Homo sapiens: one gene and its partner. The protein of the gene in region 1 binds, or shares a complex with, the protein of each later gene. Each region holds a gene or a part of one and is shown on either strand. Other genes may lie near its edges.

The links. The genes of interacting proteins can lie anywhere in the genome.
Region 2: the proteins of CAMSAP1 (region 1) and TUBB are in contact, whole or in part, in a cryo-EM structure (PDB 6QUS), measured with the Homo sapiens proteins. Residues at the interface, in NP_056262.3 of Homo sapiens: Cys1486, Cys1487, Leu1488, Ala1489, Gly1490, Lys1491, Val1492, Asn1493, Ala1519, Gly1520, Cys1521, Gln1522, Arg1562, Lys1563, Gln1564; in NP_821133.1 of Homo sapiens: Arg306, His307, Gly308, Arg309, Asn332, Asn335, Lys336, Ser338, Ser339, Tyr340, Glu343, Gln426.

Annotation. Positions count from the first base shown.
Region 1 is NC_000009.12:135,820,543-135,827,564, reverse strand, and holds part of CAMSAP1 (calmodulin-regulated spectrin-associated protein 1), read left to right. Parts: coding exon 1-158; intron 159-2,684; coding exon 2,685-2,776; intron 2,777-3,530; coding exon 3,531-3,615; intron 3,616-4,304; coding exon 4,305-6,726; intron 6,727-7,022. UniProt on the Homo sapiens protein: Key microtubule-organizing protein that specifically binds the minus-end of non-centrosomal microtubules and regulates their dynamics and organization. Specifically recognizes growing microtubule minus-ends and stabilizes microtubules.
Region 2 is NC_000006.12:30,716,294-30,723,357, forward strand, and holds the start of TUBB (tubulin beta chain), read left to right. Parts: upstream 1-4,058; 5' UTR 4,059-4,213; coding exon 4,214-4,270; intron 4,271-5,344; exon of another isoform or gene 5,345-5,585; coding exon of another isoform or gene 5,586-5,702; intron 5,703-6,243; coding exon 6,244-6,352; intron 6,353-6,624; coding exon 6,625-6,735; intron 6,736-7,046; coding exon 7,047-7,064. Other genes in the region: MDC1 (mediator of DNA damage checkpoint protein 1), read right to left, coding at 589-648. UniProt on the Homo sapiens protein: Tubulin is the major constituent of microtubules, a cylinder consisting of laterally associated linear protofilaments composed of alpha- and beta-tubulin heterodimers.

The sequences.
Region 1 (7,022 bases):
AAGAGCAGCCGGCCTCCTGTACCGATCTCCAACGCGACCAAACGCAGTTTCCTAGGCAGCCCTGCTGCAGGGACCCTGGCTGAGCTGCAGCCCCCCGTGCAGCTGCCGGCGGAAGGCTGTCACAGGCACTACCTGCACCCGGAAGAACCTGAATACCTGTAAGTCTGTCTTTCTGCTTTCAGAATCAGTTCACCATCTTGTGTCCCTTTTTGTGTTAGTTTAAAATATTAATTGAAGTTACCTTTTTTAAAATAAGCAATTTGTATTCGCTTATGAAAGATTTTCCTTCTGTCCCTGCCCTTCTGGCCATTCGGTCCCCTTTCCAGAGGCCGGGAATGATACTAGCAGGAAGTTCCTTCAGGGATGTGTACCTAATTCTGACATTGTTTATGGAACAGGTGTTTTTCTGTTCTCTTTTCCACCATGTGTTACACTGTTTAAGAAACGATCTAAAGATTAGAAAGTTGAATTGACAGTTTAGGTGTGCTCTTTATGGTCTGATAGACATAAAGAGTGAAATCCTCTTGCATTTCAAGTATTGTGAAGTCTTCAAAGAAGAGAATTTGTTTGCTCTTTGGGGAAGAATTAATTTGATTCGAGTGAAAAAGTGTATAGAGCTGCTTAAAGGCTAAACTACTCTAGAAAAAGAGTTGTTTAAAAAACGTTTTTTCTAAAATGAATTTTCATCATGAAGACCTAATTTGGATAACCATATCTGGGGTAGAATTGACTGTGCCAGAATTGGGGGAGGGGGTGAAGGAAGCTTCCCTTGGAGTAAGAGTGAGCTTTGTGCTGTGTGTGGTAGGAGGACCCACAGCTGATGCCAGCCTGGAGCCAGTTAGCACACCGAAAGTGGAGAAACATTTTTAACATGTGGCGATTTAAGTTGGGATTTAAGATGAAGACGCTATTTAAAAGTGGTTTTAAATAATTCACATAAGTGAATGGTTCAGTGAGACAGCATGGCATAGAACGAACTCAGTTGTTTCAGGTTGTTTGAGAGGAGCTAAAACCGGTGACCATGTTGAGGGATGGGATGCGGGGGCTGCCGGAGTCAGGAGGAAGGAGTTGAGAGGCCCTTGTGATACAGGCAGTGGTGGGGGGGTACACACCCAGGGGTGGGGCATAGCTGAGGGAGGGGTTTGGATGTGTTCTGTGTTGGGCGGCTTTGAGACTGGGGTGTCTGTCCCCAGAGCTCAGAGCAGAGGTGGGGCGGTAACTCCATGCCCGCGGGCACAGGCGGGGTCACTGAGTGAGGAGAATGGCTCGAGGCTGAGCCGTCCCTCACATGGGGCCAGCGTGGACACTTGGCGTCCTCCCTTCGGTCTTTGCGTGTCTGTTGTTGAGCCGTGTGTGTGTGTGTGTGTGTGCTGGTGCCCGTGTACACGCTGCTCTGTGACCTGCTGTCTGCACCCTGTTGTCTGCACCCAGCAGCCTGTGGTGAGAATTTTCCCACTCGGTGCATCCTCGTCTGCCACAGTTTCAACAGCTACCCAGTCTGTCACGTCATGGGCGTGCCGTGATGGGTCCACTGTCCCCACGGTGTCCAGGCTGCAGGGTTTGCATTGTGGCCCTGACACAGGTCCCTGTGCCATTCCTGCTCTGCCCAGCTTCCCCCCGGGCTCCCTGCCTTGAGCCCCTCTCTCCGCAACCCTTTCGCTTGTGTGCTCCTGCACACCTGCTCTCACTGTGTCTCTTTGGTGTCTGTGTCCTGACTCTGGTGTCCTCTGCCCGTCTTTGCCTCTTCAGGCCTAGGTGTGCTGACTCTGGCCTAGGGTGCCGAGCTGTCCCCTGTGATCTCCCCAGCCTGTCTGCACCTGGCGAATTATCCCTTTACCAAATTCTCCCCAAAGTGAAACAAGCAAGATAGCTGCCCTGCAGTGTGAGCGCGCTTGTTTCTCGGGGAGCTGGTGCCTGTGGAGTGGCAGAGGCTGCTGGGTGCCGGTCTCATGGGTGTTGCTCTGTCAGAACTGTGCGATCCGCACACGTGTGACTTCCGCCTTTCCTGCATGTGCCGTTCTTCCCGGGAGTGAGGCCTTCACACCCATGCTTCTGTGTGCACCTCTCATCGTTCTTTCTCTTAAGCTATAATCCAAGGAGTGGTAAAGGTGTGAGTGATTTTAGAGGTTTTTATGGATATTGCCATATTGTCCTCTAAAAATGTACATTTTTACCCTCCCACCAGCAGTGTGGGAATGTTCATGCTGCCGTCTGTGATGGGTTTAATTACTCATCAATATCTTCACAGTGGTGGCTTAGTACATTGGGCATCATCCTTGTGGTCTCTTTTATCTCTGAAGTTCTCTCTCTTTTTTTTAATTGAAGCAGTAATGTGCATTTTTGAAAACTGTTGCTTGTCAGAGGATCACTTTTTCTTTTTACTTTTGCTTATCTCAGAAAATCACTCTAATTGCACGCTTGGGTTTTGCTTTTCCCGTGGGAAGCTGGTTGTGTTGTAGACACATCGGGGAGTCAGTGTGCCCGTTTGCAGTGTGTGGATGTTCATCCCAGGTTGGAAGTTCCTGATACTCTTGGCTCATTTTTATTGTCATTTTTTTCCCAAACAGTCCGAGTTTCTCAAAACTTGGTGTGAATTCAGGATGGTCCTGTACACTTGTGCATTTGCTGTTGACCTTGAAGTTTGATAAAGGAATGATTTTCCCTGTAATTCTTTTTCCATTTAGCGGGAAAGGAACTGCTGCCTTCAGCCCATCCCATCCTTTATTGCCACTGAGACAGAAACAGCAGAAATCCATACAGGGAGAGGACATCCCTGGTAAGAATGTTGTTTCCTCCTTTTTTCCTTAATTTCTCCTTACTATAGATTAGTAAAATCATATTTCTCAAAATTAAATCATTTTATCTGATGTAGTGATTTTTTTGTTTGTTTGTTTGTTTTTTGAGATGGAGTCTTGCTCTGTCACCAGGCTGAAGTGCTGTGGCGCGATCTCGGCTCACTGCAGCCTCTGACTCCCTGGTTCAAGCAATTCTCCTGCCTCAGCCTCCCACATAGCTGGGATTATAGGCGCATGCCACCATGCTCAGTTAATTTTTGTATTTTTAGTAGAGACAGGGTTTCATCATGTCGGCCAGGATGGTCTCGATCTCCTAGCCTCATGATCTGCCCACCTCGGCCTCCCAGAGTGCTGGAATTACAGGTGTGAGCCACTGTGCCCGGCTGATGTAGTGATTTTAGTTAAGACTGTAGCCAAATAAATTTTAACTTGTGTTGTCAAAATGTATAGTCTTGCAGTGAAAATATCGTTGAGAGCAATTACCTTCTGTGTAGTAGACACAGAGTAACTGCGACATAAGCAGGGCTCACACATGCTGAAGCTCTCTCACAGTTCTGAACTGTGTGTTACCATCAAAATGTGGGACAACTGTATGGTTTTGCCTCTCTGCTTTCCATGCGGCCCTTCTGGTGTACTGACTTGAGAGGCATTTTTCTGGACAAATGGTCATATTGAAAGAATTTCAAGTGATAGAAAATTGGTTACTTAACACTATCTAATTCCTCTGTACTGCAGATCAGCGACATCGATCGAATTCTTTGACCCGAGTTGATGGTCAGCCTCGAGGAGCAGCAATAGCCTGGCCAGAAAAAAAAACCAGGTGAGTCTGTGTTTCAGCAGTGTTTCTGTTTGGAATGTTTTTTATACTAAACAGCAGTTCTTAAGATGTCACCCCAACCCCCTGAGGATCACCGAGACCCTTTTATAGGGAGTGCCTGAAATCAGAATTATTTTTATAACAACACTAGGAAGTTACTGCCTCTCTGCAGCCTCACTCTTGCGAGTGTGCCGTGGGATTTTTCAGAGGCTGCATACCATGTGGTGTGGCAGCAGGTGGAGTCAGGTATGAGGGTCCAGCCAGATCCCAGAACTATACAGGTGTCAAATAGTGCCTGCCCTTAACACTAGGAACTTCTTCCGTTCTGGCGAATATAGTCATTTGTCATGGAGTGGGCTAATTACTGTAATTTTAATCAGTGTTTAGAAAATGTCTGAGCTTTAATTTGTAGGATGATAAATAGAGATTAATACTGATAAATAGAAACAAAAGCTCTTTGAGGTCCTCAGTAATTTTGAAGGGTATCAAGAGGTCCTGGGACTAGAGTGTTTGAGAATCACAAAGCTGAAATTATCTCTGATTTTCTTCTGCTCTGTGGAAGAGTGAGTTTAAATCTCCTGCATATGAGAGGCGTATTCTCTTTGTGTGGCCGGCATTCTCACCCCCTGGTCCATGTTGGGGGTCTTTGGTGTATACCGCAGCGCACCCAGTGGGCCTTCCCTGTGTTTCAGGCCTGCGTCCCAGCCAACACCTTTTGCTCTACATCACGCTGCGAGTTGTGAAGTGGATCCCAGCTCTGGCGACAGCATCAGCTTGGCCCGCTCCATCAGCAAAGACAGTTTGGCATCCAACATTGTTAATCTGACCCCACAGAACCAGCCACACCCCACGGCCACGAAGAGCCACGGGAAGAGCCTCCTGAGCAATGTCAGTATTGAGGATGAGGAAGAGGAGCTTGTGGCTATTGTTAGAGCAGACGTGGTTCCCCAGCAGGCTGACCCGGAGTTCCCCAGGGCCTCACCCCGGGCCTTAGGCCTTACAGCAAATGCCCGGTCTCCCCAAGGACAGCTGGACACCTCGGAAAGTAAGCCTGACAGTTTTTTCTTGGAGCCTTTGATGCCAGCAGTTCTTAAGCCAGCGAAAGAGAAGCAGGTGATCACCAAGGAGGATGAACGGGGGGAAGGGAGACCGAGGAGCATCGTGTCTAGGAGGCCCAGCGAGGGCCCCCAGCCTTTGGTACGAAGGAAAATGACTGGCAGTCGCGACTTGAATAGGACTTTTACCCCGATTCCATGCTCAGAATTCCCCATGGGCATCGACCCCACCGAGACAGGACCACTGTCAGTGGAAACCGCAGGAGAGGTCTGTGGTGGGCCTCTGGCCCTTGGCGGATTCGATCCGTTCCCCCAGGGACCATCCACGGATGGCTTCTTCCTTCATGTAGGCAGGGCCGATGAAGACACCGAGGGAAGGTTATATGTTAGTTGTTCAAAAAGCCCCAACTCCCACGATTCAGAGCCGTGGACTCTCCTCAGGCAGGATTCTGACTCGGATGTGGTGGACATAGAGGAAGCCGAGCACGATTTCATGGGTGAGGCCCATCCTGTGGTTTTCAGCAGATACATTGGGGAGGAAGAGTCGGCCAAACTGCAGGAGGACATGAAGGTGAAGGAACATGAAGACAAAGATGACGCCAGCGGCCGCTCGAGCCCCTGCCTGAGCACAGCCTCTCAGATGAGCAGTGTCTCCATGGCGAGTGGGAGCGTGAAGATGACCAGCTTTGCGGAGAGGAAGCTCCAGAGACTCAACAGCTGTGAGACCAAGTCCAGCACCAGCAGCTCCCAGAAGACCACGCCAGATGCGTCTGAGAGCTGCCCAGCCCCTCTGACGACGTGGAGGCAGAAGAGGGAGCAGAGTCCGAGCCAGCATGGCAAGGATCCCGCCAGCCTCCTGGCATCTGAGCTGGTACAGCTGCACATGCAGCTGGAGGAGAAGCGCAGGGCCATCGAGGCCCAGAAGAAGAAGATGGAGGCGCTGTCGGCAAGGCAGCGCCTGAAGCTCGGCAAGGCTGCATTCCTGCATGTGGTGAAGAAGGGCAAGGCCGAGGCTGCCCCACCCCTCAGGCCGGAGCACTTTGCAAAGGAGTACTCTCAGCACAACGGGGAGGACTGTGGGGACGCTGTTTCCAAAACCGAAGACTTTCTCGTGAAGGAGGAGCAGAGAGAGGAGCTCCTTCACGAGCCACAGGATGTGGACAAAGAGAGCCTGGCCTTTGCTCAGCAACATAAAGCAAAAGACCCTGTGGCTCTGCACGAGCTGGAGAGAAATAAGGTGATCTCCGCTGCCCTCCTGGAGGACACTGTTGGGGAGGTTGTCGACGTGAATGAATGTGACCTTTCCATCGAGAAGCTTAACGAAACCATCAGTACGCTGCAGCAGGCCATCCTGAAAATCTCTCAGCAGCAAGAGCAGCTTCTGATGAAGTCCCCCACAGTCCCAGTGCCAGGCTCTAAGAATAACTCGCAGGACCACAAAGTGAAGGCACCAGTCCACTTCGTGGAGCCACTCTCTCCCACGGGCGTGGCTGGCCACCGCAAAGCCCCCCGGCTGGGTCAAGGCCGGAATTCCCGTTCCGGAAGGCCGGCGGAGCTGAAGGTCCCAAAAGACAGGCCACAGGGCTCCTCCCGAAGTAAAACCCCAACGCCCAGTGTAGAGACGCTCCCGCACTTGAGACCCTTCCCTGCCAGCAGCCACCCTCGGACGCCCACGGACCCTGGCCTGGACAGTGCCCTGGAGCCCAGTGGTGACCCACATGGGAAGTGTCTCTTCGACAGTTACAGGCTCCATGATGAAAGCAATCAGCGGACACTTACTCTGTCCTCTTCCAAAGATGCCAACATTCTTTCGGAGCAGATGAGCCTCAAAGAAGTTCTGGATGCGAGTGTGAAGGAGGTGGGGTCCAGCTCCTCAGATGTCTCGGGAAAAGAGAGCGTCCCCGTGGAGGAGCCTCTGAGGAGCAGGGCCAGCCTCATTGAAGTGGACCTCTCCGACCTGAAGGCCCCCGACGAGGATGGGGAGCTGGTAAGCCTCGATGGCTCGGCGGACCTTGTCAGCGAAGGCGACCAGAAGCCGGGGGTCGGCTTCTTCTTCAAGGTAAGGGATTGGTAGCATCTGTTTCAGGCACTCGTGATGTGTTGCCACCCCACGTGATAGTGAGTTAGAGAACACAGATCTGCACCAGGCTGGCCAGCCGCTCCTGTAAGAGGCCAGGGGATGTGTGTGTTTAGCTTTGTGGGCCACAGAGTCTCTGTCCCGAGGACTCCACTTGGCCAGAAGCAGTCCCGGGCAATACGCATGCAAGTGAGCGTGGTGTGGCTGAGACGACTTTGTTATGAGCCCTGAAACTGGAATTTCATGTGATTTTCAACATAGTTTTTTTTTTTTTGCTG
Region 2 (7,064 bases), on another chromosome or scaffold:
GCTCACTGCAACCTCTGCCTCCAGGCTTCAAGCGATTCTCCTGCCTCAGCCTCCCGAGCAGCTGGGATTACAGGCGCCCGGCATCACGCCTGGCTAATTTTTGTATTTTTAGTAGAGACGGGGTTTCACCACGGTCTCGAGCTCCTGACCTCAGGTGATCCGCCCACCTTGGCCACCCAAAGTGTTGGGATTACAGCAGTGAGCAACCGCGCCCGGCCTCAAATGTCACTTTCTCAGCAAACCCTTTCCTGGCGTGTTCCCTGCCTTCTCGTGTTCCTGGTGTATCCTGCCTGTTCCACAGTGGTCAATGGATTTGTGCTTACTCTAAGATCTCTCGCTATATTGTAACCATTACTTTCCATTTCTGCCTTCACACTCACCCACCTCCAGGACTGGATTAGGGGAACCGTGTCTTTCCCCTAGGGTCCATCATATTCATTCAATGGTTATGGTATACCTGTTTGAAGTATTTGGTATACATCTGTGAACCAAACATGAAATCGACCCTGCCCTCGGGAAGGCTCATCACCGAGCCTACTGATGAAGGAACAAATGAGATGGAAAGAAAATAGCATAAATGGAATTCACCTGAAAATATGCCACTCTAGAGGGAAACTGTTGACAGGTAGGGAAAGTAGGATGCCCCATGGATAAAGTGTCAACTCCGTCTTTATGACAGGCCAACTCAGCGGGTGCCCACCACGCTTGGCTCCAATTCAAAGAGCCACCATCTTTGGTCCCCACCTCAGTGGGTTCCCTTGTGGCCCGACGTCTCCCTGTGTCTTCATACCTAAACTCGGAGCGGGGCGCCAGGTAAGGATGAGTATTACAGTCCGAGAAGCGAACTTCCAAGTCACCTCCGCCCAGTCGCACCCAAGGTACGCCCCTCCCGCCTTCTGGGGGAACCAAGATGGCTCCCGGGGAGCCGTGGGCCAGGCCCCTAGAACTCACCTACTTTAAGTCCCCGCGCGCGCCACCAGTAACGGTCGCGACCCAGGTGGAGCGACTGCGTGTGCCGAAAAAGAGCTTATTTGCTGATTGGCTTCTGCCGCTGTCTTTCACAACCGCAGCCAGTCGAGCGGAGGCACACCCAAAGCCCCGCCCCCTTAGAGTTCAAATAGGTGGTGTCTCCCAGGCTGCTGAGATCAGTTAATGAGACGGTAATTGAAGGCCGCCGTGCGCCAACAGAATAATGCACGTCGATTGGGCAGCTCCAAGGGACAACCCACTACCGCTTGCCCGCCCACCACCCACTTCCCGCGCAGTTCCAAACCGCGACCAGAGAGTCTGGCGCCAGCTGCCGGCAACGGATAGAGGGGCTGTGTCATAGACGTCCGACGTGTCTGGTAAGGCCAGAGCGCCTTTCCTCGGTCCTCCTAGACATGGTGTCCGCTGACTCATGAGAAATGAAAGTGGGTTGCGCGTTGCAGTCGTGGCTGGAGGCTGCAGTTTGGAGAACAGCCCGTAGGCGTGGCAGTTCACTCCTGTTGCATTGGAATTTCATTTCCTTTTGATTTGGTTTGTAGTAGAAGTAATATCTTTCTTCCTGGGAATACGTCTCTGACGGACATTTTGAGGTCATTTTCTTAAATCCAAGATCCTAAAGATCTGTAGTCGAACAGAGAAAACTGGTTTGCTCTCTGTCTTAAAGGCTGTCCCCACCTTTCGAGGGGCGAGGGAAGGATCATAAAATCATTTATTTTTATTTTTTAATTAACTAATTTATCTATTTTTTGAGATGGAGTTTTGCTCTTGTTGCCCAGGCTGGAGTGCAATGGCGCGATCTCGACTCACCGCAACCTCTGCCTCCCAGGTTCAAGCGATTCTCCTGCCTCAACCTCCCAAGTAGCTGGGATTACAGGCATGCGCCACCACGCCCAGCTTATTTTTGTATTTTTAGTAGAGACGTGGTTTCTCCATGTTGGTCAGGCTGGTCTCGAACTTCTGACCTCAGGTGATCCGCCCGCCTCGGCCTCTCAAAGTGGTGGGATTACAGGCGTAAACCACCGCATGCGGCCATCTATATTTTATTTTTTGAGACGGACTTTCGCTCTTGTTGCCTAGGCTGGAGTGCAATGGCGCGATCTCGACTCACCGCAACCTCCGCCTTCTGGGTTCAAGCAATTCTCCTGTCTCAGCCTCCCGAGTAGCTGGGATTACAGGCATGCGCTACCACGCCCGGCTAATTTTGTATTTTTAGTAGAGACGGGGTTTCTCCATGTTGGTCAGTCTGGTCTCAAACTCCGGACCTCAGGTGATTCTCCCGCCTGGGCCTCCCAATGTGCTGGGATTACAGGCGTAAGCCACTGCGCCCGGCCTATTTTATCTCACAATAAGACATGAAGAAAATGGTAACTATAACACTTGCATAATTCATAAAGTCCTTTCTGTTGGTTATCTCAATTCTGTGCACAACAGTCAAATAAGCAGATTTTACAAACGAGGAGCTGGAGCCCTGCAAAGTTAAAGGACTTTCCTAGGATCCTACAGCTAATATAGAGACAAATTGAAACAAGTTATCTGATTGTGTATTTTGAGTTATTTCTACTCCCACAAAATGACTGTGTTCATTTCCCTAAAACGTAAAGCATTATATTTTAAGTGGGTAGAGAGGGCTTACACAAGTTGATGTTCCCTCATTTAGAAGGCAACTTAGAAATACATTGATCTGCCCAGCGCGGTGGCTCACGCCTGTAATCCCAGCACTTTGGGAGGCAAAGGCGGGCGAATCACGAGGTGAGGAGATCGAGACCATCCTGGCTAACACAGTGAAACCCTGTCTCTACTAAAAATACAAAAAAAAAAAAAAGAAATACATTGATCTGTGTGATCGAATGTGAATTAACAATGACGTTGACTTGATACTACATTTCTGAGTGGTTACCACATTTTATTGATTGTATGCTTCTCACCAGACTGCAACATCCTGGAGGACAGGGAGCTAATTCTTAATCATTTTGTAACCATAGCTCCTAATTTGGTGGATACATAGTAACTATCAAATAAGTGAATAATAAATCTATGGGAAGAAGCAGATGGACTCCGTCTTGAACCCACTCAATTTTTCCCCCATCAATTACCCCTCTCTCGTTTTTCAATACTGGGTCTCTTGCAGAGTTGCAGTGGCGGCCACCTGGTCAGTGAAATCAGCGAATTGAAAAACCACTGACTTCATTAACATGTCTAAAGAGGCAGGCTGAAAAAACTGAAAATCTATCAGGCATCTCATTCCATAGTTCCCTGTTTGACAAGAAGACCAAGGTGTCTTCAAAGTCTGCCCTAAGGTCCAGATCTCCTACCCACGTAGGAGACTTCTAGTTTCACAAATCCCCGATGTCGGTTTCTCTAAACTATTTTATTCTTTGAACATACTCTCCAGACAACATCGCTATCCTGAAAAGCCCTTGCTGCAATTTTGTTTCTCTTTCAAAACAATGGCTCGAAAATTTCCAAGGAAATAGCAAGAGGGCGATTCCCTTCTTGAAGTATTTGAGGGAGCAGAAGCTTACTGAAGTTCATGCCTTGGGTCACCAAAGGCCAGGGGAGGCAGAGCACGGTGCCAGACTTCTCCCCATTTTTCGCTGAACTAAGCAATCCTTTCTCCCCTAGAGGTACTGCAGCTGGGAGCTTTCAGGGCGTGTCTTCCCCACCACCCAACTTCTGGAACCCCAGACTTCTCAATTCCTGTACCCCCAAGAACTGCTCACTTTTTGTACAAAAACCTCAGGCATAGAGGAAAGGAATCTTGCGCAAGGTCGTTTTTCATTTACAAAACAAAAACCCCATGAAAACCAAACCGGTACCCACCCATTCGTCACTTCATTTTGCAGCATGGACAACAATAGGGGACTACAACTCCCAAAGAGGACTGCGCTCGTCCACTGGCTCAGAGGCCAATGGACGCCTGGTACATGACCGGCATCGACTAATCAGGGCCAGGCTCGATGAGGCTTTGTCTCCCTACCGCGCGCGGGGCCGATTCTCCCGCCTCCCAGCCCCGGCGCACGCGCGCCCCGCCCAGCCTGCTTTCCCTCCGCGCCCTCCCCTCTCCTTTCTCCCTCTCAGAACCTTCCTGCCGTCGCGTTTGCACCTCGCTGCTCCAGCCTCTGGGGCGCATTCCAACCTTCCAGCCTGCGACCTGCGGAGAAAAAAAATTACTTATTTTCTTGCCCCATACATACCTTGAGGCGAGCAAAAAAATTAAATTTTAACCATGAGGGAAATCGTGCACATCCAGGCTGGTCAGTGTGGCAACCAGATCGGTGCCAAGGTAAGAATTTTACACCTCTTTTATTTCTTTTTACAAGGAAAAATCCAGGTAAGTTATGAAAAAATGGTTGTGGGGCATTTGCACCCGCTATCCTTAATCAAGATTTGCCCCTCTCAAGTTTGTTACATTTATATATATAACAATTGTAGCTAGCATTTGCCTTTGGAAAGCTGGGAATCATTTTTCTTGGCAGGCACATTTTGGAGAAACTAGTAAAAGGGCTCTTCGGGTTTGGGGGCGGGAAGACCGAGGACTTATAAGATGTTACTTAAAAGGGCTTCTAACGGTCCGAGAACCGGGCAGGGAGAGAGATGCGGAAACGGTCGCAGACAAAGCGGGGCGAGGTTTTGCCCATGTGCATCCCGCCCAACCCCCCTGCGGGGTACTTAGGGCCAAACCGGAGCGGGAAGGGGTGAGGCCATCGGGCGGCTGCAGAGAGCTCCAGCGCAAGGGTGGGGGGCGATGCGCCAGGGTGGGCTGCGCTGGGCGCTACCTTTCACAAAAGACCAGGGACCCCAACGCGCCCGCGACCCCAGAGGGCCGGTCCTGTATTTGTTCCTGGGTGGAAGGAGAATAAGAACGGGATTAATTTTACTTGCTTTCATGGCCCCTAAGAGAGACTTTTTTAGGGCGTGAACAGATATGTCGAGAAAATGGGGGTGTGTGGTTTTCTTTAATGAGTCCCTCAGGACTTAATGGGAGAGAAAGAATCCTTTAAATCAAGGGGTAGAAATGTAGCGAAGGAATAAAAATTCCGAGGCCAAGGGGGATTTTTTTTTTTTGCGCGCGGTTACAGTGTAGCGGGGGAGGGGCGGGAGGAAGTGCGGCTGCTACGTTGTAGCAGAAGGGCGGGGCCCTGCGGGGCGGGGCCGGGGCGCCGTGGGCGCGCGGGGACAATGCGGCGTTGCCCGCCGGCAGGGGCGCGCTACCTTGGGCCCCGCCCCTCGCGCGCGGAATTTTTGTCCCTGGCCCCGCCCACGCGCGAAGTCTTTTGTCGGCGGCTCGACCTGCGCGTGCGCCGCAGTCACGTGGAGGGCGGGGGGGGTGGTCGACTGCGGCGGCAGCTCTTTCCTCAGACCCCCAGCCTTTTGTGCGCCGCGCGGTGGGGCGGTGCCCAGCTTGGGGGAAGGAGAGCGGCGCTTATCGAAGTGTGGTCGACCTCCATCCGCCCACCGAGCACTTGGGACCCGCTGCACATATCCAGAGCAGGGAAAGCTGTGGCTTTCTCGGGGGAGCGAGTGTCTAGGGGAAGGGTGTGGCAGGCCCACGGGATGCCATGCCCTAGAACAACGGCCTGAGCGCTTGTGGAATTAAAATGGGAGATGTGGGGCCGAGGTGGGCGAATTGGGATCCCTCCAGGTCAGGGGTTCGAGACCATCCTGGGCAACAAAGCGAGACCCTCCCCCATGCCACGTTTCTACAAAAAATAAAAGTAAAAAATTAGCTGGGCGTGGTGGCGCGCGTCTGTGGTCCCAGCTACTCGAGAGGCTGAGATGGGAGGATCGGTTGAGCCTGGGAGTTCCACGCTGTAGTCATCCGTGATTGCACCACTGCACTGCAGGCTGGGCAACAGGAAGACCCTGTCTTAAAAATTAGAAGAAGCTGGGCGCGGTGGCTCACCCTTGTAATCCCAGCACTTTGGGAGGCCAAGGTGGGCGGATCACGAGGTCAAGAGATCTAGACCATCCTGGCCAACATGGTGAAACCCGTCTCTACTAAAAATACAAAAAGTAGCTGGGCGTGTTGGTGCGCGCCTATAGTCCCAGCTACTCCGGGGGCTGAGGCAGGAGAATCGCTTGAACCCGGGAAGCAGAGGTTGCAGTGAGCCGAGATAGCGCCACTGCACTCCAGCCTGGTGACAGAGCGAGACTCCGTCTCAAAAAAAATTAAGAAAAAGATGAAATAAAATGGTAGTTGGGGACATAGTTGGCTGGGACTTGACCTGTTGTGGTCTCGTTGCTCCCCCTCGGCAGTTCTGGGAGGTGATCAGTGATGAACATGGCATCGACCCCACCGGCACCTACCACGGGGACAGCGACCTGCAGCTGGACCGCATCTCTGTGTACTACAATGAAGCCACAGGTAAGGGCAGGAGCCCGGGCAGCTCAGGTTCCCTTCCCTGTCTCCCACTTATCTGGGATCTCTTTCCATTTCTGGGCACGCCTTATCCCCTTTGGGTGAATCTGTCATTTTGTCCCTTTCGTGAACCACCGTCGGGGCCAAAGACGTCTGCTGCCACCTGGTGGCGGGACCTGGAATGACAAGTCTCTGATCCCTGCTGTCTCCCATTTCCAGTATATCTATAAACCTTCCCTTCTGCCAGATTTCACAGCTCTTAACTTTATTCTCTGTAGGTGGCAAATATGTTCCTCGTGCCATCCTGGTGGATCTAGAACCTGGGACCATGGACTCTGTTCGCTCAGGTCCTTTTGGCCAGATCTTTAGACCAGACAACTTTGTATTTGGTGAGTTATACAGATGATATTAGCAGATGATATACCATCGTGTTCAACTTATTTGGGTGCAAGGACACAGCAAAAGTTAGGAGATGATTGTTGTATTGGAGTGCTAATACAGAAATGTGTTCTGAAATCTAACGGAGGGTAGAGGTAGTGCCTACTATTGCTGGTAAATTATGGGGCAGTAGGGGGAGAATATATCACAGTGAAGGAGAAAGAAGATACATCCGAGGGAATTATTTGAAAAGTTGAAAGATGGAAACATCATGTATCTTCCATACCCTGTTAATTGAGCTTTTCTCCTGACTGCATTCCAGGTCAGTCTGGGGCAGGTA